Regions from separate parts of the Homo sapiens genome. Here all the other regions are linked to region 2. The links come from fine-mapping of genetic effects on gene expression. A gene starts in region 2. Each other region holds a variant in brackets. All regions are shown on one strand. Distances are between the middles of the regions. Region 1 holds the start of LOC124900717 (a long non-coding RNA gene). Region 2 holds the start of THAP6 (THAP domain containing 6). Region 3 overlaps LOC107986230 (a long non-coding RNA gene).

Region 1 (8,186 bases), 29 kb before region 2:
GCTTTTGGACTGGAACTGCAGTATAGGCTCTTCTCTGAGTCTTCAGCCTGCCTGGCCTACCCTGTAGATTTTGGACTTGCCAGCCTCCGTAACTGCATGAGGTACTTCCTTAAACTAAACCTCTCCTCTCCATATACTCACCCTATTGGTTCTGTTTCTCTAGGGAATCCTAACACATGCCCATATTCTTTCTCTGTCATGCTTAAATGTGTTGCTTGACAGGTTTAGTGAATAAATACATAGGAAAAGATTTGAGAAATCAATTGCTTCTAAATAAGAGCTTGGGTGTTTATGGACAATGAAGGGGCATGGACAGTGCTCCTTGACTGGAGATGTGTGGGAGGACTAAGAATTTCAGGCTGCTGTGTGAGCACTGAACTGCCTCTAACACAGACACTTCAGAAAGGTGCTGGTGAAGAGAGCAATCCCTCCGTCTCAGGATGGAATGTCCTTCACCCAGAGGCTGAACATCGGGATTTTGGGGAGAATCTCATAGTGACTTCCCTGCTTCAGTCCCCCTCTTCTCAGTCTCTCTTTCCCTCTTTCCTGGTGGTTTGAACATGTGTTTGGAATTTCAGAGAGCTCAAACTGAAGACACTGGGTTTGGATACAACGAAAATGGTTTTTGCTAAGTAATTTGTTTCAGATGCTTAAATTGAGACCATCCTTCTGTATTAAGTGAGATGGAAGCTAGCAGCCTGAGAAGGAAAAAAACCCTAAAGATGAAACCTCTTAGGCCAGCAATGTCAGAAAGGCTAGGCTTTCTAGCTGTCCACACGCAGTTCTAGGGTGGGCCCGCAGAGCTGCCTCTCACACCCTCAAGGGCCCACTGGAGGTCTGTCTGAGGCTGGATCAGCTTCACCTGCTTCTTTTATCATTCAAGTTCTGCTCAGAGAAAGGCCCTGTCCTGCTGCTGGGCCTTGAGGAAGCCAAGGTGAGCTGCTGGTAAGTCCAATTAGGCTAGTCTCCCATCTGTGGTCACAACTGCGGACGCTGCCTGGGAGAGGCATTCTTCTCACAGAGCCACGGTGAGTAATCCGGGGAAGCTGCTATTTGGGCTGCCTCAGCCAGGATTATGTGTGTCAGGGAGGATGGGGAGTGGTGGGCACCCCTGAGTCAGGTTGAGGGAGGTCTAGGGCTGCTTGGGGTTCTCTGTCAGAAGCACCACAAAGGGACAGGTGCTCTTTTGGGGGATCTAAAGATTCTGCGGTTGGCACTGACTTGAAGGTGGCCTAGATGACTTCCTGCAAGGCTTGCTTAGGCATCTTCTGCTGGGATTTCTCCTAAAAGGGGGTTCAGGCACCTTAACCACACCTCTAGTTCCTTCAGTTTGCAGAGCAGGAGCCTGAGGCCTGGAGAAGGTTCCTAACCTCATCCTGGTGATTTAGCAACAGAATGGCAGTAACATCCCGGTGAGGGGCAGAGTAATGCCCACGTCAACAAGAGCCTGCATTCATCGATGGTTTGAAACAGAGTATTAAACCAGTGGGGTGAATCCGCGCTGTGCTCTCTGCCCTGCCATTGTTTAGCTGCAGGACCTTGGACCAGTCAGCTTCCCTGCCTCTCAATTTCCTCATCTATGTTATCATTTACTATATCCTAAGCATCACTGTTCTAAGAATTGGACATACATTAAGTCATGTAATTCTTAAAACAACCCAATGAGGTAGTTACTATTGTCATCCCCATTTTAGAGATGAGAAAACCGAGGCACAGAGAGGTTGTCCTGTGGCTAAGAAGTGGCAGAGCCATGCTATGAACCCAGGCAATTTGGCTCCAGAATTCTTGATTTTAATTTCTATAGTAGGTGTGCTCTTGAGACTCTGGCTGTTGTCCTATTGCAGTGAGAGCCCTGTGATAGTATCCTTAAAATTCACCCAGGTTCTGTAGGGCAAAACACTTGGTTAATTTTTTTTCAAGGTAAAATAAATAATGGAGTGGGAACCTACAGATTAAAAGAGACTTTAGAGACATATCAACCCATTACAATGTTTGGAGGGAGATTATTGTTAAATGTTTTTAGATGAAACAGTGATATATACCTTTGTCTAAAAAAAAAAACAGAGTCCTAGGCCAGATGTGGTGGTGGGGACTCACACCTGTAATTCTAGCACTTTGGGAGGCCGAGGTTGGGGGGTATCACTTGAAGCCAGAAGTTTGAGACCAGCCTGGCCAACATGGTGAAACTCCGTCTCTACCAAAAAATACAAAAATTAGCTGGGCATGGTGGTGCACTCCTGTAGTCCCAGCTGATCAGGAGGCTGAAGCATGAGAATCACTTGAACTTGGGAGGCAGAGGTTGTAGTGAGCCGAGATTGCGCCACTGCATTCCAGCCTGGGCGACGGAGTGATGAGCCGAGATTGCGCCACTGCACTCCAGCCTGGGTGATGGAGTGAGACTCTGTCTCTAAAAAACAAACAAAAATTAAAAAATAAAGTCCTTATCTTTTAGAGATACATGCTGAAATAGCTACAGATTATATGTTGTTTGGGATGTGCTTCAAAATAATCAGAGGAGGGGAGAGAGTGAGGGTGTGGATAAAACAAGACTGTCCATGTTTTATAACTGTTGAAGCTGGGTGATGGATGCATTAGAGTATATTATACTCTCTACTTTTGTTTGGAACTTTCCATTATAAAAAGTGTTCAAAAAATCACCCTATATAAATGTTTGGTTTATTCTGAGAAATGTCAAAATGTCACATGGACCTACCTCATGGCTAGTGGGAAGAGCAATAGTCCACAGGGAGGGAGTGGATGGGACACTGCTAAGAAGAGTCAGCTTCCAAGAATGTAATTTACTGGGGGCGACCCATAGTGCCTATATTGTCTATCATGGCCATAACAAGGATAGAATACTTCTATGCTGTTCCCCTTGTTCTGGTAAACAAATGTACACGAAGCGATTTACTAACAAAAAATCTTCACTCTGCAGCTATGCTCTACCACTACAGAGCCAGCCTACTCTCTTCTCTCTGCTCCACTGCCATTATTTTGGCTTGCCCAGCCCAGTACCTATCCAGTTCTTCTGAGGACTTAACCCTGAGTTCCCTCTGGAAAACCATCATTTCTCTACTCTCTTGGTTCCAGGAATCGGCTGTAATCTATGACTGCCAATCATAGCATAGCATTCCTATGGCCACAGATATTTATTTAGGGTTGAGTATTTGACTCAAGCCATTTCAATCAGACTCAGTCCGAACTAGTCCTGGGACTGTCATATGAATGACTGGAAAGGAGGCACACATTTTGTCTTTGGACTTGAAGTTGTGAGGAACATACCTACATGAAGGGAGAGGCTGCTTGATAAAGCAGAGTTGAGAGACTCCAGATTCTGAAAACATCATTTGAACTCCTAGATCCAGCTGTACCTGAAGCCATACACAGTATGCCACAAGTGGTTTGCTAAAACTGGTTCTAAAATATTACTAATATACTATAGTAGCAAATCACATAGAGAATGAAAATTCTTAAGCCTAGTATTAAAATGGAGGAAGAAGAGCTATTAATTTTTTATGCTCTTGTATTTGATTATAGACTAGAGATGTAGACATAGAGTAAAAAATTGTGTCAGTTCCAGTGGCTGAGTAAAGCATTAGCAGAGATCAGGACCAATCTTTTATCATTCCATGCATTCTTCCTGAGAGCTGAGAGAAACCAGGTGACTAGACAGACTCCTTTGCTGGTGAGACCTGTGGATATTTGAATGTTTTGCCTGTGTATGTGGTAAGGTGACTTCATCCTGAGTGTGCATCTGCCCTGTTTATGCTTGGCAGTAGCATCAGACAGATCCAGATTGTGGTAATGAGTAACTATGGGCTTTCCTCAGCTTCAGACACAAGATGAGTTCACATTTTATCCTTCAGCCTCTAAATGCCCCAACTGGAGCTTCCAAATGGAGTGACTGAAGTCTGGCCTTTAAGACATTGTGAATGTTCAGCAACAATTCAACAATGAGTGAATCAAAGTCTCTGGGTCTCCAGAATAAATAAAAAAAGACAAAACAAAACAAAACAAAAGTCTCTGGCTCTTGCATTGTAGATCAGAACAAACAACAACGTGACTTCATATAATGATATGAAGACATCGTTATACCAGCTGTGAAACCTTGGGCAAATTACCTAGCTTTTCTCTGTTTAATTTCCTCTTCTGTAAAATGAGAATAATAATAATAGTACCTACCTTATAGGGTTGTTGTGAAGTTAAATGAGTTAATAAAGTTTAAGTGCTTTGAATAAAGATTGGCACCTTATAAATGTTAGCTATGATGGTTACT[G/A]AGAAATAATTTTTTGCCTTGAACAAACATTTCCTCTTGAACATGGATATCTGAAACAAAACACAGGCAGAAATACGAGGATTTATGAAAATTGCGATCAGCTCTATTAGAGCATGCAATACTTCCCAGATATCAGTACTCTGAAGTCACGTTCTTTAGTTTTCTGAGGTATTGGGTCAGTTGGAAAGCTGTATTGTGAGGTTCTCAACAAGGGATGGAGGCAGTCATTTGTAGGGTTCTGCTGGTGACCAGTCACAGGCAAGCTAATTAAAATCTTTAAAACACACCTACCCAGACAGTGGTTTCTTAAATCTCAAATAGTTGGGCTGGCAGGGGTTTGGGAGATTTCTTTGAAATATGTAGGTGTCACGGGAAATACTAGTAATTCAAGACTTACATCCAACTTTAGCCAATGTCCCAGGGGGATGATGAAGGTAATGATAACAAGTAATACCTCATTTTTCAGAGATGAAATGGTTTTGATTTTCTTTTTTTTTTTTTTTGGAGACAGTCTTGCTCTGTTGCCCAGGCTGGAGTACAGTGGTGCAATCTTGGCTCACTGAAACCTCCGCCCCTCTGCGCTCAAGCGATTCTCCTGCCTCAGCCTCCTGAGTAGCTGTGATTACAGGTGCCTGCTACCATGCCCAGCTAATGTTTGTATTTTTAGTAGAGACGAGGTCTTGCCATGTTGGCCAGGCTGGTCTTGAACTCCTGACCTCAAGTGATCCACCTGCCTCGGCCTCCCAAAGTGCTGGATTACAGGCATGAGCCACTGTGCCCGGCTGGTTTTGATTTAAATTTGTAGAATGCTGTTATTATAATTTTCTTTTCCTCCCTTCTTTCCTTTTTTTATTCTCCTTTCCTCCCTCCCTTCATCTCTCTTTCTTTCATGTGCACTCTCTGTCTCTGTTCCCAGGAAGTATATAACCCCCTCTCTAGAAGTAACCACTTTAAAAGTTTGCATATATCTTTTCTTTCTTTTTCTATATACTTACACACACACACACACACGTACACACTTATAAATTGTTTTGTAGGTAGGTTTCAAAACATTTTATATAAGTGAGATACTATTTTGAGTTGTGCTTTATATTGTTTTTATCCATGTTAAGGTCTTGTTTTCCCATGGCGATAATATGGATTGATGTCTTTTTGAATTGGTGCTTATTGTTTCATTCCATGGGCACGCCACGGTTTTATTTATCCATTTACTGCTTGATGGGTATTTGGGTTGCCTTCTACTTTATGCTTTCATGAACAGTCCTCACGTAGCCCTCACGTGGCACATACAGAGCCCCTTTGCTATCAGGTACATTTAAAAATAACTTACTAAAATGGTTTTTAGTTTTAATATATAGAATACATTTGCATTTCATCCTAAAATTTACCAGTCTTTATGGTGTCCTGGTGAGTTTGATCCTTTGGATAGCCATGTCTTGTTTCTGGTTACACCATTTTCCCATGTGATTTTCAACAAAATATGTCCAGATGATGGTGATGGCCATAGAAACTTGAATTGTACATCTCAATAATCAAGACATTCCCTACTCTTAAGACCCATCTACAAGTGTTATAATAAGAGTGACAATCCAAAATTTTTTTACATCCTCAGGATTTCAAAGGTAATTTCTTTCAGCTGTGTAGCCTGGCAACATTTTATACCGTTATAAAATCTACCTGTTTAATAAGCACCAGTATCCTTATTTTTATTGAAATTTTATGTTGAGTACATTTTACTGGCAAGTCTGTAGCTGAATGCTTGTCTCCATAAGGTACTAATCACTAGTATCTGTGGTTAGCATCCTGCATAGCACATACACTTCACTCTTTATTTAATAAAACTCTTCTGTTTTAAAAAGCACAAGGCCCAAATCTGCAAATTCAGATGCGATATTACCTTTCAACTGCACAAGCTGTACCACAAGGATTTGAGAAGTTTATTATTGGACACAAATCTGTCAGGAACTCCTCTGCTGTTAACTGACCACAGAACATGGAGCTCAGGTGAGTTCAAGGATTATCTGTTTAGTAAGTGACTTGATGCTCTGAGACACTGCTACACAAAGTAGCTAGCCTATGAACTCTTTCTGACTGGTTCAGAATGAGAAAAAGCTCTTGTTCCAGAATGTAAATCAACATATGATTTCATTTACTAAGGAAGTCTTGCTCAGAAAACATTCTGACTGAAAAAAAAATTGACTGAGCTAAATGGTGTGCTTTGTGATGTAGTCGATCTACATTCTGCTCCAAGTGCCTTGATTTGTATACACTGATCTGGGAACATTCTAAGTAACACTGTCAAGATGTTTTATAAAGTTGAATGAACGGGTGAATGAACGAAACATATCTAAGATAGATTAAATGGCTTGTCAGTATTGGAGTGAGAGGATGAAGAGGAGGATGGTGATTGAAATTTTCCCTTTCAGTGATACAATGTTCCTTGCCTGCTTCTGAGCTGCCACAAGAGAGGGAAGATTATTTAAGGCACAAATAGCCTACCTGACCACTGTTGCCTGTCCACTTGCCATTCCCTATGAAATGCATTTCTCTCTTCTTGGTTTTTGTTCTTCTTCCTGTTCTTGTTTCCTTTTCCTGTGTTTCTGGGATGGGATGGAATTTAAAGAAGAAAGAAAAACAGTATGTGGATGGCTCATTGTATGGTCTACGTTTTATACGCAATGAAATAAAATTCTCACCACCAATGGGTAAGGTGCTATTGTCTACTTTGTAAGTGCTCAGAGAAGTTCAGCAAGTTGACCCACTTCCCATATATAATGAAGTGGGAGGCTGGGAACTTGAACCCAAGTCTGTTTGGTTCTCCCCAGCTGGTTTGGTCTCCTACTCTCACATCCCAGGAAGGTGCTTACATAATCCAGGTTCTGGGACAGCACTTTCAAAGTGCCCACACTGACAAACTTATGTTCTATTTTGTAATTTTGAAGCTCCATTAATTTCATAGTTTCAGTACCTTTAATTGCCACAGACCCTGCTATATTGCCCACTTATCTGTATTTGTGTTATGTACTTGTATGTCCCTGTAGGTTGTGAATGTCTTCACCTTATTCCTGTTGTTCTCTCACACTATCGTATGGGGCTTCGAAAGCAGTATATGTGATGGGTTATTACACTAAACATGTTAGTCTGTAAACTTCTTCATGTACCTGAGAAGACAGATATAAAATGATAGACCCAAACACTTAAACTGTAAGATGCTGTGGTATAAATCTATTGAGCCATGTGTGTTGTCCAATAAAGTAGTGCACAATGAGGAGAAAGGCATTAGGCTGAATTCAAGAACCCATTGTCTTGAGATATATGGCTGCGCTCCCTGGTATCCTTGGAGTATGGCTTTTGGAACTTCATACTAGCATGTAATCTCCTTGAAGACAGGAAGTGAATCTATGTTGTTTCTCCAATGCCTAGCATATTCCCTGGCATACAGTTCCTGGCTCCTGAAAAATACGTGTGGAAATGTTGAATGTGCTAGGTTCTCAGCATTTCTTCCTCAACTGCTGTGACTAGTGCTCATCATGGACCCTCATGTGGTTCTTAGATTACAAATTGTAGGTCTTCTGCTCTTGGGTTTCCTGGTCCTAATCTAACATTTTCTTCATTCGTTTCAATCTCTGTCAGCTCCTGCTCTGCATCAGGCACAATTCTATGATCAGAAGCACAGCTAGCAGGAAGGTGAGGGATGTGGCAGCAGGGGGACAGTTGTTTATCTTGAGCGTGTTCTCCAAAGGGAGCTGTGACAGTTGTTAAAATATTAAATGAAGTTTGAGGCAGCAATGTGAAAGTAAAATAATGAGACCTATGAAGAGGGTAGTCAACAAGAGGCATCAATGGCTCAGGCGCTACCCAGGCTTGCCTTTAGGTTTTAGAAACCTGGCTTCCCTCTTCCCATTAGTCC
Region 2 (8,186 bases):
ACATGGAATTCAATTAGCGTTTACTTATTTGACTGTTCTTTCTTTTCCTGACCTTTTCTTCTCCTGTTCTTAGATCTCTTTTTTGGTTTTCTTCCTTTTGATCCTACCTAGACTTTATGCTTGCATGTATGTGGCTCTTACAAGTACTTTAGTCCTGTTAGTGGTTCTACTCCTGACTTCTGCCCCAGTGTTAAGGACTGCCAACTTGGAACATCAGTTCAACCTTCTTACGTTAACTTCCATTTTTAGACAAAAATCTTCAGTTATGCTAATTCCTAAAGTCAGCCCACTTCATCAAACCTTAGTAATATACAAATATTTATGAGTGGTTACTGGTAAAATACTCCTACTACACATTACAAAAGTTGAAGATGCAGTCTACAAATTTAAAACTTCAAGAACAGACTTCAAATGAATAAGCAAACAATAAAAATGTTAGCAAGAGTGGTGAAGGTTCTTCAATAGTATCATAAAAAGTGAGCAATGGCCAGGCACGGTGGCTCATGCCTGTAATCCCAGCACTTTGGGACGCCGAGGAGGGTGGATCACGAGGTCAGGAGTTCAAGACCAGCCTGGCCAAGATGGTGAAACGCCATCTCTCCTAAAAATACAAAAATTAGCCAGGTGTGGTGGCAGGTGCCTGTAATCCCAGCTTCTCGGGAGGCTGAGGCAGAGAATTGCTTAAACCCTGGAGGCAGAGATTGCAGTGAGCTGAGATCGCGCCACTGCACTCCAGCCTTGGTGACAGAGCGAGACTCTATCTCAAAAAAAAAAAAAAAAAAAAGTGAGCAATGATGGTAAACAGTATCTCATAAACAAACCTGTAGGTGATATGGAGAATCAAAGATAGAAGGTATGACTCCAGGTTTCAGTTTAATATTTGGAGCACTTCTGTCAAAATCTGTCTTCTTAAAGTGCCTCGAACACAACACATCTCCTTTTTTAGGCTCCCAAATGCCGGCTGCATTCACATCAAGTCTTTTCATTGCTAATACCCATTTCCTTTTGATGTTTTCATCTGTGGGGAATCTAGAAAAAAAATACAAAAAATATTTTAAAATCAAATACTATTGCTATATAATTGAATTAAAGCTGCCTTATACAACTGTGACTAAATTGATTCGTTAACTAGTTTATTAGTCTTGAGAATTATAATATTTAGGAAACCATAATTCATGCTTTTGTTACTTTCCGTTTTAATATTCAGATTTTCTGCCAATCATGCTGCAGATATATGGCCCTCATTTCATTTTTTCTCACATTATAAGGAAGAAAAGTTTCAATGGATATTTAGCATCTTATAGTAAGATCCACAATTGAAGGTATTTATTCATCTATAGATGATAAAAGAATTATCACTTGGGCCTTTTCCTATCTGAAATGATATCCAGAATTTATCCTCGATAAAAAGGGCCCCTTGTAATTCCATTCTTCTGTCAGCACCAGAAAATTGCTTAGTACAGCATTTAATACATAGCAGGTCTACAGATGCTTAGTGAATGAATGCAGAGAATAGCTGCAGTGTGGAGTTCTGGAGATCAGAGCTATTTTGAGAGATATGAAGGCCTAATAGCCATATCTTACTCAATTTTCAAGCTGGTTCAAATTTTTCTAAAATAAGGTAGGATATATATGCTCAGTTTTGATTTATTATATCTAACAAAATAGCTAGGAGATCTTTCTCTAACACATAGGACAGTGCCTGGCACAAAAGCAGCAAAATAAACCTTTAACAAGTGAACAACTATTAAATCTTATTACTCCTTCACTTACTCCTTCATGGCTGTCAAGAGAATGGCTAAAATATGAAACTAAAATCATTTTGATTTATTTGCAACACAGCTAAAGATCCCTTGGTCTTAACTTGTAATTTGTATTTTTTCTCTATAACCTATGCTTGATCTACTTCTAAATAGAGAGGGCAATATATTCGAGCAAAGCTCCTTCATTCAGATTGTAAACTACATGTAAACAACATTGAATTTCTTTGGCGGTGTGATAAAATACAAAGTAATAATATTAGCAAAAGTTAGCCTTATGGTATTTTTTGTAAACCAGTCTCTGATATCTTAAAGTCTCTGATATCTTAAAACTTTTAAACTAAATTATAAACATGTAAAGGTATCACATTGTCACTTCAAATTTAACAAAAAGGTTATTTAAAAAGGACTCGGGAACTAAAGTTCAAAATTGAAGACTTAAGTAGAACTGTCTTTTGCTTTTTATAACATGGCCAAAGTATTTGGCTTAACTACAGCAAAATCTTACACGTGAAATGTCAGTCCTTTTAACTTCGAATTTGGCAAGCAGCGAGAAGCACATCCAATGGCGGAGCAGCATTTCACCATTTTAGCAACTCATAACAAAACTGAAAGAAAATTAGAATGTTAAGAGTTAGTAACCGGAAAGCTGAAGGGGAATATTTTCCCTTTCCCGGTGTTTTAGGAAACACAAAATCAGGATAGAAAGCTAAAGACAAATATCTTCTTCTAACACCTGCAGCTTTGCTTACATCATTTTCCAGGGCCTTGACTCTTTAATAAGGAGAAACATATTTAGCTGTGTACCCCGAGTATGATTTCAATTTTGTTGGCTTGTACATTTTCCTTCCACCTTCTAACAGGTACCATGTTCTTTGTGCCACAAAGCCTTTTGCACACTAACTCCTACCCATCTTTCAGCCCTCGGCTTGCATCGCTTCCCCAGGGAAGCCTTCCCTCACTGACACTCAGATTGTCAGAGCTGCTCTAATATTAGCTCTCACAGGACACACACTTCTTCCTAGCACTTCTCCAGGTTGTAATCTTACATTTATTGCAGTGATTGCTCTTATTAATGTCTTCCTCCTCCACCAGTCTTGTTAGTTCCATGAGGTCATGGTGGAGTGTGTCTATTTTTCCTTACTTTTTGTCCTCACGGTTTAGCTGGTGACTGGCAATAGTGAATGTCAGTACATATTTTGAAAGAACAGCAAGTAAACGGGAAAGGGAGGAAGCAAGAAGCACTTCGAGGTGCCAGCGAGCACCCTGGCGTCCAAGAGCAGCGCGCGGGACCCGCTGAGCCCAGGGCCCGGGCCGAGCTCCGCCCCTTTCTCCAGGCTCCCCGCCACCGGAGGGAGAGAGGGAGGACCCGTCACAGGTAACGATGCGCCCAGTGAGCGTCCTTTCCTCTGGGGCCAACCAGCGTCTCCGCGCCGCTGCCGCCAACCTCGCGCCGAACTACGCCCTGAGATTTGGGCGGGTAGCGATTGGGGGAAAACAGGCAACCTAAGAGTTATTACCGTTAGCAGCGAAGACTGCGACTAACGTCAACGACGGAGACTGCGTCTGCCTTCGCTTCCGCCTCGTAGCCCCGGGAACCGGAAATCCGTCTGCCCCGGGTCACGTGCTTAGGAGCCATATTGTCGCTAGTGGCCGCTGGGGCTGGGAGGGGTGTGCTAGAGAGGCGCAGCTTCTCTGGGCGTGGTTTTTATCCTGGGGGAAGGATCGGTGGAATGTGAGGGGAGGTGGAGGAGATGGCGGCGACGGCCCGGGAAGATGGCGCCAGCGGTCAAGAGCGAGGTCAGCGGGGCTGCGAGCACTATGACAGAGGATGTCTCCTAAAGGTGACGCCTTCTATGGACTCTTCCCTGACAAGCTTCCGTCAGGTTGGGCTGGGGCGGGCTGGGCAGGTGGTTAGGCTTGGATTTAAGTTTGAGGTTAACCTGATTTTCAGGATACCTTTTCCACCTGGAACTGGGTTCTTCTTGAGGAGAACGTTTTTGGCAAGGCGATAAGCCCCACCTTTCCTACCTGCTTCGTACCTTTAAAGCAAAACCCTTCTTGGGAAGTGATTAGGCTTGCACAGTGGTCTCTGCCAGTGGGCTTATTCGTCTTTTGCTGCCGAAGTAGACTGAGGCAGCCCCGGGCCTGTACTGGGGTTTTCCGTTCAGGTGTGTGATGAAATAATGGAAGTGGAGATAATGGAAATAAGCAAGTGGAGAACCCGAATACGATTTCAGCTCCTGTGGTAAAGTTTTATAGCCTGCCAGCTTCATGTTAAAGGCAGTGCACATGTTCAGACGTAGGAGAAAACGTGTGTCCCAAAAAAGAAGACAATCATGTAATTGCCATTAAATAGGAAATTATGCATAGGAAAGTGCCTAATAAGCATGTATTGTTACTCTGAGAAAACTTCTTAATCTGTATTTTTTTTTAAATTGGCACGTATTCAATTGAAGTTTCCTGATTTTCCTTGCAAGAAACAGTACAAAAATTTTGCTTAGAAAACTTGAGCTTTGGAACCTCAACCGCCCTATCCCCAAATCTTAGCTCTCCTCTTTAATAACTGATTTTAGCTAGCTCCTCTCTACCCCGTATGTAAAATGGAGATGATCGCGCCTGTTTCATAAAAGTGTATGAGGATTATATACTAAAGGGCGTGTATAGTGTTTAACAGGGCGCATTCCCTGAAGTAAATGAGTAGTAAATATATACCACCATGACTGTTACTATCATCGTCAATCTGAGTATTATTATTTTTTGTTCTTTCACTTCACAAGTCAGCCTTGCTGGTCACTGCCTCATTATTAGAAGCAAGTTCAAGTCTCAGGCCTGTACGTGCATCCTAAACTCTTTTCTATAGGTCATGGCTTGACGAACATTGCTCCACTGAACTGGATGAAGCTCCTTAAAAATGTTGGTCATCCACCAAGTGTTGTGTAAGGAAATTGAATGCTATCCTTATGATTCAATTTCTACTGAGATGTATTATTATTCTTTCAAACTTGAGGTCTAAAACGGAATTTAACATCTTGGTGCCCCCCATAAACCACACAATTAGATCTGTGTATCATAGCACTAAGATACTTCGCCCTAGGTGTCAAACAGTTTTTGCCTTCCCCCGCCCCCCCCCCCCCCTTAAATACCAGAGGCCAAGTGAAGTATTTCAAGGAGGATGTGGTCAGCTGGGTCAAATGCAGCTGTTTGAGTAAGATAACTGAGAATTGCCCTTTGGATTTGGCAAGGAAGAGGTCACTGGTGATCTTGACAAGAGGAGTTTTAGTGGAGAGATCAGGATTAGAGTGAATTTAGGAAAGAATGGGAGGAGTGGAATTGAAAATAGCACTTATAGGGTATTCTTGGGGTTTAGCTGTAAAGGGGAGCAAAAAAAAGATGTGGTTGCTGGGAGATCTGGCACCATATTTTTTCCTCTTTAAGAGAGGAAGTATTACAGCATGTTTGTATATTCTAGGAAATGATACAATAGAGTGAGAACGTTTTATAATGCAGGAGAGAGTGAGAAAACTGTAAGGGCATTGTCCCTGAGTAGCCAAAGGGGATGAAATCCAGTGCACAAGTGAAGGAGTTGGCCTTAGAAACATAGACTGTCAGTTCTTCCTAAGGGAAGGCAGAGAATGAGGTATATTTGCAAGTAAGTTAATAGAGATAATAGGAGGATGTTCTTTTCAGGCCTGTCAGCAGGAAGTATGTTTACTGTTTTTATAGTGAAATAAGGTCATCAGCAGAGTGTTAAGGAGGAAGAGTTGTTAGAGTTTTAAAGCCAGAGGAGAAGAAGTGAAATGATCATCTAAATCTTAGGTCTTAGACTCTGGAAGAATGAGAGAATTGACCAGGGAAACGTGGTAGTAAGTGTCCACCTCATATGAACCAGCAAGGACGGTGATGCTTTTTCTCTAGCCATATTCACCTGCTTCTGATAGAAGTCAAATAGGATTTAACTAGGGTTGGGATTGTTATCTATGAGTGTAGAGGAACTGAGAAGGGAACTAGGGTGTTGCAAGGGGAGACTTGGAGTAAGTTAGGGAGGAGGTAATGGTTAGAGAATTTCATGCTTGGAATTGAGATGCAAAGAGGGTGCCGTTGTTCTGTAGCATTGGTTTTCAAAGTGTGGTGAATGGAACCCTGGGGATTCCTGAAGTCCTTTCAGGGGCTCTGCAAGGCCAAAACTACTTTCTATGAACACTAAGATATTTGTTTTTTTTTTTTTTCAGTCTGTTGACACACGCATTGATGGTGGAAAAGCACTGTTTAGTATTGCTAGTATCTTAGCTTGAATCAAGACAGTGGCACTGAACTATACTACACCTATAGTTTTTTTAAAAAGCCAGCTTCACTTAAAAATGTTGATAAAGCAGTAAAATCGTTAATTTTAACCAAATCTCAACCCTTGAATATATCTTTTAATATGCTGTTCAATGACATGGGAAGTTTTGATCAAACACTTCTGCAAACTGAAATTAGAGGGTTGTCTTGAGGAAAAGCTCTTGTGCAAATTGGATTGTAAAGTGAACTAGTTGCTTTTTTTCATGGAACAGCATTTTTTACTTGAAAAAATTGTAGTCATTCACATTTGGGTAGTTGGCAGACATTTTCTCAAAAAGGAGAAAAGTGAGACTCACTACAAATGAAAATGACAGTATTTGTTGCCAGTGATAAAATTCAAGCTTTCACACAAAAATTAGAATTTTGGAAAACTTTTACTAGCTTTTGTGAGGTTGGAAGCTTTTTAAAAGACTTTTTTTGGTGAGATTTTCTTCAATACCTAAAGACTTTTAATGAATATGATTTTTTGATATTGCATGTTAAATGTGTGAACATTTAGAAGATGTAAATAACTCACTGAACTGGTATTCTCCAGATGACCAATGCATGAGTAAAACATCCATTTGAAGTGCAAGATAGAGCAATAGATTTTAATGTAACCAAGGAAGAAAAGAGGCATCATATCAATCATATTCCTTGATACGATTTCAGATTTCATGTTGCAACTACCCTTTAAGAGTTGTTGTTCTAGTGTAATATCAGAGAATGATATCCATAATTCTCCAAAAAGGCTATTAAAATACTCCTTTCTTTTCCAGTGTACATATTTGTGTGAGGCCAGAGTTTCTTTTTGTACTTCAGCCACAACTGTTTGAATGCATAAGCAGATAGAAGAATTCAGCTGTTTGGGGGGAAAAATATAGTTATTTTTCATTAAAACATGTTATTTATGTTAACAAGTAATGAGTTTGTTACTTTTAAAAAGAAGTAATATTTTAAAAACCTATTCTTTTTAATTTATGATGTGGTATATGTCAATAGATAAAATCCACATAAACCAAAGCTCTTTGGGATTCTCAGTAATTTTAAAAAGTGTGAAGGGATCCTGAGACCAAACCATTTGAGAACTACTGTTCTGCGGTATAACTATGAGAATAGTGGGTTGGAGGACAAGGTTATTGGAAATGACAAAGTTAAGGAACTGAGAGTTGCAGAAAAAGGAAGCCAGTTAAGTGTTAAAATCTTTAAGGAATGAACTACGTTATGGTAAGTCAAGGCATAGGAAGCCTTCAGAAATGAGTGGATCTGCAAGGTCACAGTGTATTGGAAAGTCACTGGCCTGGAAATCTCTTGATATACTTGTAATGGTAAAGTTGCTGTAATGAAAAAACCCAACAGTGATGTAGATTAAAGAGTAAAGGTTTTATTTCTTTCCATTTAACAATTCCAAGGCGAGTGATGCAGGTTGGTGATGAGGCTTTGCTCCACATGGTCACTCCAGGGATGAGATTTTTCTGTTGTATCATTTTGTCATGTTTTAGGGCATGTGGCCATCTGTCTGATATAGCTGAACAATTGTGCCCAGGAAGGAGAGGATAGATTTTGGTGGACAACTGGCAGTCTTTGCCGTGTTTGAAAACAAGGGCTGTCTCTTACATTTGTTGCATTTTGTGCAATATTAGATATGAGGTTGATGATTAATAAAAGCTAGTAAAATAAGAATATAATCTTTATTATTTTTAATGTAAATGAATTTATCTGGAAATGTCTAAGAAGAGGTTGCCTGTTTGCTGTTTAGGCTCAGAATGAAATTGGGGTGTTATATTAGTCTGTTTTCACACTGCTGATAAAGACATACCCAAGACTGGGAAGAAAAAGAGGTTTAATTGGACTTACAGTTCCACATGGCTAGGGAGGCCTGAGAATCATGGCGGGAGACAAAAGGCACTTCTTACATGGTGGTGGCAATAGAAAATGAGGAAGAAGCAAAAGTGGAAACTCCTGATAAACCCATCAGATCTCATGAGATTTTATTCATTATCACGAGAATGGCACGGGAGAGTCTGGCCCCCATGATTCAGTTACCTCCTTCTAAGTCCCTCCCACAACACGTGGGAATTCTGGGAGATACATTTCAAGTTG
Region 3 (8,186 bases), 67 kb after region 2:
TATAAAACATTTAACCATTTGAATATCTTACCAAAAGGTGTTAAGTTTTTTGCTGTTACAAACAATGCTGCTATGAACATTCCAGTGCATGTCTCCCAGTGTTCATGGGCAAGAGTTTTTTTTTGCAGATACACTTAGGCATGGAATTGCTAAGTCATATGTTATGCAAATGTTCAACCTGAGTAAATTTTGTTTTTCCCTGTATTATCTATCTATCTATCTATCTATCTATCTATCTATCATCTATCATCTATCTCTCTATCTTCTATCTATTAACTGTCATCTATCTATCAATTATCTCTCTCTCTCTGTCTCTCTCTCTCTCTAATCTATTTGTTTTTGTTGCATACCAAAGTCTATATGCAATTGCGGTAGAATAAAAACAGTTTGGTTTTTGTCCACGGTTCCTGGCACACGGTTTCTAAAACCCTTAGAATCTTAGGAATAATAAGAGTATCTTTTGTATTTGAGTGAAATGACTGGTGGCTAGAGGCCTCTAGATAGCTTCAGGTTGAGGGTTGATTGCCAGAAAGCCCATGGCATGATTGGATCGTTGGAACTTTAAGCCCCACCCCCAAATTTCTCGGGGTGGGGGGAAGAAGGTGGAGATTGAACTAATCTTCAACAGCCCATGATTTAATCAACCATGTCTAAATAATAAAACTTCCATAAAAATCCCAAACAATGGGATTTGGAGAGCTTTGGGTTGGTGAACACATCAAGGTGCTAGGGGAGGATGCTCTCAAGAGGTCATGGAACCGTTCTACCCCTGCTTCCCCATACTTTATGAATCTCTTCTGCTTGGCTGCTTCTGCTTTGTATCCTTTATAATAAACCAGTAAACATGAGTAAACTGCTTTCCTGAGTTTTATGAGCTGTTCTACAAAGTATTAAACCTGTAGGGGAGGGAAATGTGAGACTCCGAATTTGAAATTAAGTTGAACAGAAATATGGGTAACCTGGAGACCCAATACTCATGACTGGCCTCTGAAGTGAGGGTAGTCTTGTGGACCGAACCACACTGCAAACAAAATTAAAATTGAAAATAAATTGCAGAAATTGAAAATAAAGTTATAATTACTGAGCTGTTTTTATTCACTTCTGACTCCAAATGTGTGGACTTTTTCCTCACATCAACCAAATTTCTGATCCTCTGTGGGTCTTGTAAACAACACATTGTTGGATTTTATTTTTTCTTCTTATCATCCAAACCAAGAGTACAATTTACATTTGTTATAACTATGATTATTTAGAACTCATTCTTGCCGTTTTATTTCATGTTTTCACAATTTTTTATTTTAGCCATTCTGAGGTGTATAGTGATAACTCGTTGTGGTTTTAATTTGTATTTTCCTGATGACTAATGATGTTGAACATCTTTGCATCTATTTATTTGCTTTCTGTATATATTCTTTGGTGAAATGTCCCTTCATGTCTTTTGCACATGTTTTAGTTGGATTTTTTAAATTGTTGAATTTTGAGTGTTCTTTATATATTATAGGAACTAGTCATTCATCAGCTATGTTGTTTGCAGATATTTTTTACCAGTCCGTAGCTTGCCTTTTCTTATTCTTAATTAGGTCTTCCCAAGAACAAAAGTTTTAAATTTTAATGAATTACAATTTACTAATTTTTTCCTTTTATGAATTATGCTTTTAGTTTCAAGTTGAAGAACTTGTTGTCTAGCCCTAGGTTTTCAAGGATTTTCTCTTTTTTTTTCCTAAAAGTTTTATAGTTTTAGTTTTGTCTTATGTTTAAGTCAGTAATTTATTTTTTTGTGTAAGATATAAGACTTACATGAGTGGTGGCCCATGCCTGTAATCTCAGCACTTTGAGAGGCCAAGGTGAGGTGATTGCTTGAATCCAGGAGTTCAAGATCAGCCTGGGCAACATGACAAAATCCCCTCTCAAAAAAAAAAAAAAAAAATTAGCTGGGAGTGATGGCATGCTCATGTAGTCTCAGGAGGCTGAGGTGGGAGAATCGCTTGAGCCCTGAAGGCAGCGGTTGCAGTGAGGTGAGATTGCACAACTGCACTCCAGTCTGGGTGACAGTCTGGGCATCCCCCATCCACCATAAAAAGATATAAGACTTACGTTGTGATTTACTTTTTGCCTATGAATGTCCAATTGCTCCAGCACCATTTGTTGAAAATGCTGCCTTTCCTCTATTACATTGCTTTTGCACCTTTGTAAAAAGTCAGTTAGACATTATCTACTGCGTTCTTTGTTCTGTTGCATTGGTCTATGTCTATCCCTCTGCCAATACTATACACTCTTGATCACTGTTGCTATATAATAGGTATCGATATTAGGTAGACTGATTCCTCATTTTCTTTTTCAAAATTGTTTTTAGTTATTCTACTTCCTTTGCTTCTCCATATAATATTATAATAATCTTGTCTATCTACAAAAGATTTTGCTGGGATTTTGATACAAATTATATTAAACTTGTATATTTATTTGGGGAGAATTTACTATGTTGAGTCTTCCAATCTAACAATATGGTATGTCTCCACATTTGTTCAGGTCTTCTTTATTGTACAGCTGCTCCTTAACTTACGATGGGGTTATATCCTGATAAACTCATCATAAATTGAAAATATAATATGTTGACATAGAGCTGCTATTACCTGAAGATGGCTGAATAGGAACAGCTCCGGTCTACAGCTCCCAGCGTGAGCGATGCAGAAGACGGGTGATTTCTGCATTTCCATCTGAGGTACCGGGTTCATCTCACTAGGGAGTGCCAGATAGTGGGCGCAGGTCAGTGGGTGCGTGCACCGTGCGCGAGCCAAAGCAGGGCGAGGCATTGCCTCACTTGGGAAGCGCAAGGGGTCAGGGAGTTCCCTTTCTGAGTCAAAGAAAGGGGTGATGGACGGCACCTGGAAAATTGGGTCACTCCCACCCGAATACTGCGCTTTTCCGATGGGCTTAAAAAACGGCGCACCACGAGATTATATCCCGCACCTGGCTCGGAGGGTCCTATGCCCACGGAGTCTCGCTGATTGCTAGCACAGCAGTCTGAGATCAAACTGCAAGGTGGCAGCGAGGCTGGGGGAGGGGCGCCCGCCATTGCCCAGGCTTGATTAGGTAAACAAAGCAGCTGGGAAGCTCCAACTGGGTGGAGCCCACCACAGCTCAAGGAGGCCTGCCTGCCACTGTAGGCTCCACCTCTGGGGGCAGGGCACAGACAAACAAAAAGACAGCAGTAACCTCTGCAGACTTAAATGTCCCTGTCTGACAGCTTCGAAGAGAGCAGTGGTTCTCCCAGCATGCAGCTGGAGATCTGAGAATGGGCA[G/C]ACTGCCTCCTCAAGTGGGTCCCTGACCCCTGACCCCCGGGCAGCCTAACTGGGAGGCATCCCCCAGCAGGGGCACACTGACACCTCACACGGCAGGGTATTCCAACAGACCTGCAGCTGAGGGTCCTCTCTGTTAGAAGGAAAACTAACAAACAGAAAGGACATTCACACCAAAAACCCATCTGTACGTCACCATCATCAAAGACCAAAAGTAGATAAAAGCACAAAGATGGGGAAAAAACAGAACAGAAAAACTGGAAACTCTAAAAAGCAGAGTGCCTCTCCTCCTCCAAAGGAACGCAGTTCCTCACCAGCAACGGAACAAAGCTGGATGGAGAATGACTTTGACGAGCTGAGAGGAGAAGGCTTCAGACGATCAAATTACTCTGAGCTACGGGAGGACATTCAAACCAAAGGCAAAGAAGTTGAAAACTTCGAAAAAAATTTGGAAGAATGTATAACTAGAATAACCAATACAGAGAAGTGCTTAAAGGAGCTGATGGAGCTGAAAACCAAGGCTCGAGAATTACGTGAAGAATGCAGAAGCCTCAGGAGCTGATGAAATCAACTGGAAGAAAGGATATCAGCAATGGAAGATGAAATGAATGAAATGAAGCAAGAAGGGAAGTTTAGAGAAAAAAGAATAAAAAGAAATGAGCAAAGCCTCCAAGAAATATGGGACTATGTGAAAAGACCAAATCTACGTCTGATTGGTGTACCTGAAAGTGATGGGGAGAATGGAACCAAGTTGGAAAACACTCTGCAGGATATTATCCAGGAGAACCTCCCCAATCTAGCAAGGCAGGCCAATGTTCTGATTCAGGAAATACAGTGAACACCACAAAGATACTCCTCGAGAAGAGCAACTCCAAGACACATAATTGTCAGATTCACCAAAGTTGAAATGAAGGAAAAAATGTTAAGGGCAGCCAGAGAGAAAGGTCGGGTTACCCTCAAAGGGAAGCCCATCAGACTAACAGCAGATCTCTCGGCAGAAACCCTACAAGCCAGAAGAGAGTGGGGGCCAATATTCAACATTCTTAAAGAAAAGAATTTTCAACCCAGAATTTCATATCCAGCCAAACTAAGCTTCATAAGTGAAGGTGAAATAAAATCCTTTACAGACAAGCAAATGCTGAGAGATTTTGTCACCACCAGGCCTGCCCTACAAGAGCTCCTGAAGGAAGCACTAAATATGGAAAGGAACAACCAGTACCAGCTGCTGCAAAATCATGCCAAAATGTAAAGACCATCGAAACTAGGAAGAAACTGCATCAACTAACGAGCAAAATAACCAGCTAACATCATAATGACAGGATCAAAATCACACATAATAATATTAACTTTAAATGTAAATGGACTAAATGCTCCAATTAAAAGACACAGACTGGCAAATTGGATAAAGAGTCAAGACCCATCAGTGTGCTGTATTCAGGAAACCCATCTCACGTGCAGAGACACACATAGGCTCAAAATAAAAGGATGGAGGAAGATCTACCAAGCCAATGGAAAACAAAAAAAGGCAGGGGTTGCAATCCTAGTCTCTGATAAAACAGACTTTAAGCCAACAAAGATCAAAAGAGACAAAGAAGGCCATTACATAATGGTAAAGGGATCAATTCAACAAGAAGAGCTAACTATCCTAAATATATATGCACCCAATACAGGAGCACCAAGATTCATAAAGCAAGTCCTGAGTGACCTACAAAGAGACTTAGACTCCCACACATTAATAATGGGAGACTTTAACACCCCACTGTCAACATTAGACAGATCAACGAGACAGAAAGTCAACAAGGATACCCAGGAATTGAACTCAGCTCTGCACCAAGCAGACCTAATAGACATCTACAGAACTCTCCACCCCAAATCAAGAGAATATACATTTTTTTCAGCACCACACCACACCTATTCCAAAATTGACCACATACTGGGAAGTAAAGCTCTCCTCAGCAAATGTAAAAGAACAGAAATTATAACAAACTATCTCTCAGACCACAGTGCAATCAAACTAGAACTCAGGATTAAGAATCTCACTCAAAACCGCTCAACTACATGGAAACTGAACAACCTGCTCCTGAATGACTACTGGGTACATAACGAAATGAAGGCAGAAATAAAGATGTTCTTTGAAACCAACGAGAACAAAGACACAACATACCAGAATCTTTGGGACGCATTCAAAGCAGTGTGTAGAGGGAAATTTATAGCACTAAATGCCCACAAGAGAAAGCAGGAAAGATCCAAAATTGACACCCTAACATCACAATTAAAAGAACTAGAAAAGCAAGAGCAAATACATTCAAAAGCTAGCAGAAGGCAAGAAATAACTAAAATCAGAGCAGAACTGAAGGAAATAGAGACACAAAAAACCCTCCAAAAAATTAATGAATCCAGGAGCTGGTTTTTTGAAAGGATCAACAAAATTGATAGACTTCTAGCAAGACTAATAAAGAAAAAAAGAGAGAAGAATCAAATAGATGCAATAAAAAATGATAAAGGGGATATCACCACTGATCCCACAGAAATACAAACTACCATCAGAGAATACTACAAACACCTCTACGCAAATAAACTAGAAAATCTAGAAGAAATGGATGAATTCCTGGACACATACACTCTCCTAAGACTAAACCAGGAAGAAGTTGAATCTCTGAATAGACCAATAACAGGAGCTGAAATTGTGGCAATAATCAATAGCTTACCAACCAAAAAGAGTCCAGGACCAGATGGATTCACAGCCGAATTCTACCAGAGGTACAAGGAGGAATTGGTACCATTCCTTCTGAAACTATTCCAATCAATAGAAAAAGAGGGAATCCTCCCTATCTCATTTTACAAGGCCAGCATCATTCTGATACCAAAGCCAGGCAGAGACACAACAAAAAAAGAGAATTTTAGACCAATATCCTTGATGAACATTGATGCAAAAATCCTCAATAAAATACTGGCAAAACGAATCCAGCAGCACATCAAAAAGCTTATCCACCATGATCAAGTGGGCTTCATCCCTGGGATGCAAGGCTGGTTCAATATACGCAAATCAATAAATGTAATCCAGCATATAAACAGAGCCAAAGACAAAAACCACATGATTATCTCAATAGATGCAGAAAAAGCCTTTGACAAAATTCAACAACCCTTCATGCTAAAAACTCTCAATAAATTAGGTATTGATGGGACGTATTTCAAAATAATAAGAGCTATCTATGACAAACCCACAGCCAATATCATACTGAATGGGCAAAAACTGGAAGCATTCCCTTTGAAAACTGGCACAAGACAGGGATGCCCTCTCTCACCACTCCTATTCAACATAGTGTTGGAAGTTCTGGCCAGGGCAATTAGGCAGGAGAAGGAAATAAAGGGTATTCAATTAGGAAAAGAGGAAGTCAAATTGTCCCTGTTTGCAGATGACATGATTGTATATCTAGAAAACCCCATTGTCTCAGCCCAAAATCTCCTTAAGCTCATAAGCAACTTCAGCAAAGTCTCAGGATACAAAATCAATGTACAAAAATCACAAGCATTCTTATACACCAACAACAGACAAACAGAGAGCCAAATCATGAGTGAACTCACATTCACAATTGCTTCAGAGAGAATAAAATACCTAGGAATCCAACTTACAAGGGATGTGAAGGACCTCTTCAAGGAGAACTACAAACCACTGCTCAAGGAAATAAAAGAGGATACAAACAAATGGAAGAACATTCCATGCTCATGGGTAGGAAGAATCAATATCGTGAAAATGGCCATACTGCCCAAGGTAATTTACAGATTCAATGCCATCCCCATCAAGCTACCAATGTCTTTCTTCACAGAATTGTAAAAACTACTTTAAAGTTCATATGGAACCAAAAAAGAGCCCATATCACCAAGTCAATCCTAAGCCAAAAGAACAAAGCTGGAGGCATCACACTACCTGACTTCAAACTATACTACAAGGCTACAGTAACCAAAGCAGCATGGTACTGGTACCAAAACAGAGATATAGATCAATGGAACAGAACAGAGCCCTCAGAAATAATGCCGCATATCTACAACTATCTGATCTTTGACAAACCTGACAAAAACAAGCAATGGGGAAAGGATTCCCTATTTAATAAATGGTGCTGGGAAAACTGGCTAGCCATATGTAGAAAGCTGAAACTGGATCCCTTCCTTACACCTTATACAAAAATCAATTCAAGATGGATTAAAGACTTAAATGTTAGACCTAAAACCATAAAAATCCTAGAAGAAAACCTAGGCATTACCATTCAGGACATAGGCATGGGCAAGGACTTCATGTCTAAAACACCAAAAGCAATGGCAACAAAAGCCAAAATTGACAAATGGGATCTAATTAAACTAAAGAGCTTCTGCACAGCAAAAGAAACTATCATCAGAGTGAACAGGCAACATACAAAATGGGAGAAAATTTTCACAACCTACTCATCTGACAAAGGGCTAATATCCAGAATCTACAATGAACTCAAACAAATTTACAAGAAAAAAACAAACAACCCCATCAAAAAGTGGGCAAAGGACATGAACAGACACTTCTCAAAAGAAGACATTTATGCAGCCAAAAAACACATGAAAAAATGCTCATCATCACTGGCCATCAGAGAAATGCAAATCAAAACCACAATGAGATAACATCTCACACCAGTTAGAATGGCAATCATTAAAAAGTCAGGAAACAACAGGTGCTGGAGAGGATGTGGAGAAATAGGAACACTTTGACACTGTTGGTGGGACTGTAAACTAGTTCAACCACTGTGGAAGTCAGTGTGGCGATTCCTCAGGGATCTAGAACTGGAAATACCATTTGACCCAGCCATCCCATTACTGGGTATATACCCAAAGGACTATAAATCATGCTGCTATAAAGACACATGC

Evidence for each region. PIP is the estimated chance that this variant, and not a neighbour inherited with it, causes the effect. A credible set is the group of variants that fine-mapping cannot tell apart.
Region 1: its variant is the best candidate, but not a certain one, in a credible set for the expression of THAP6 in whole blood (INTERVAL, PIP 0.55).
Region 3: its variant is the best candidate, but not a certain one, in a credible set for the expression of THAP6 in whole blood (INTERVAL, PIP 0.65).

The regions. Positions count from the first base shown.
Region 1 is chr4:75,538,549-75,546,734 of GRCh38, reverse strand. It overlaps LOC124900717 (a long non-coding RNA gene), which reads left to right and starts at 6,175. Exons shown (of 2, transcript XR_007058142.1): 1 at 6,175-6,280; 2 at 6,703-6,876. It also overlaps a transcript of THAP6 not described here. The variant G/A (reference allele first, on the strand shown) is at 4,277.
Region 2 is chr4:75,509,615-75,517,800 of GRCh38, reverse strand. It overlaps THAP6 (THAP domain containing 6), which reads right to left and starts at 3,328. Exons shown (of 5, transcript NM_144721.6): 1 at 3,281-3,328; 2 at 2,269-2,368; 3 at 822-1,029. The coding sequence starts at 2,348. It overlaps RCHY1 (ring finger and CHY zinc finger domain containing 1), which reads left to right and starts at 3,398. Exons shown (of 9, transcript NM_015436.4): 1 at 3,398-3,604. The coding sequence starts at 3,515. RefSeq lists enhancers at 2,633-2,852, 2,428-3,358, 3,193-3,672, 3,359-4,289.
Region 3 is chr4:75,443,000-75,451,185 of GRCh38, reverse strand. LOC107986230 (a long non-coding RNA gene) reads left to right here. Exons shown (of 3, transcript XR_001741514.2): 3 at 2,527-2,690. Among named protein-coding and RNA genes, the nearest start is that of RCHY1, 67 kb to the left of the region's middle. RefSeq lists an enhancer at 2,913-3,481. The variant G/C (reference allele first, on the strand shown) is at 3,300.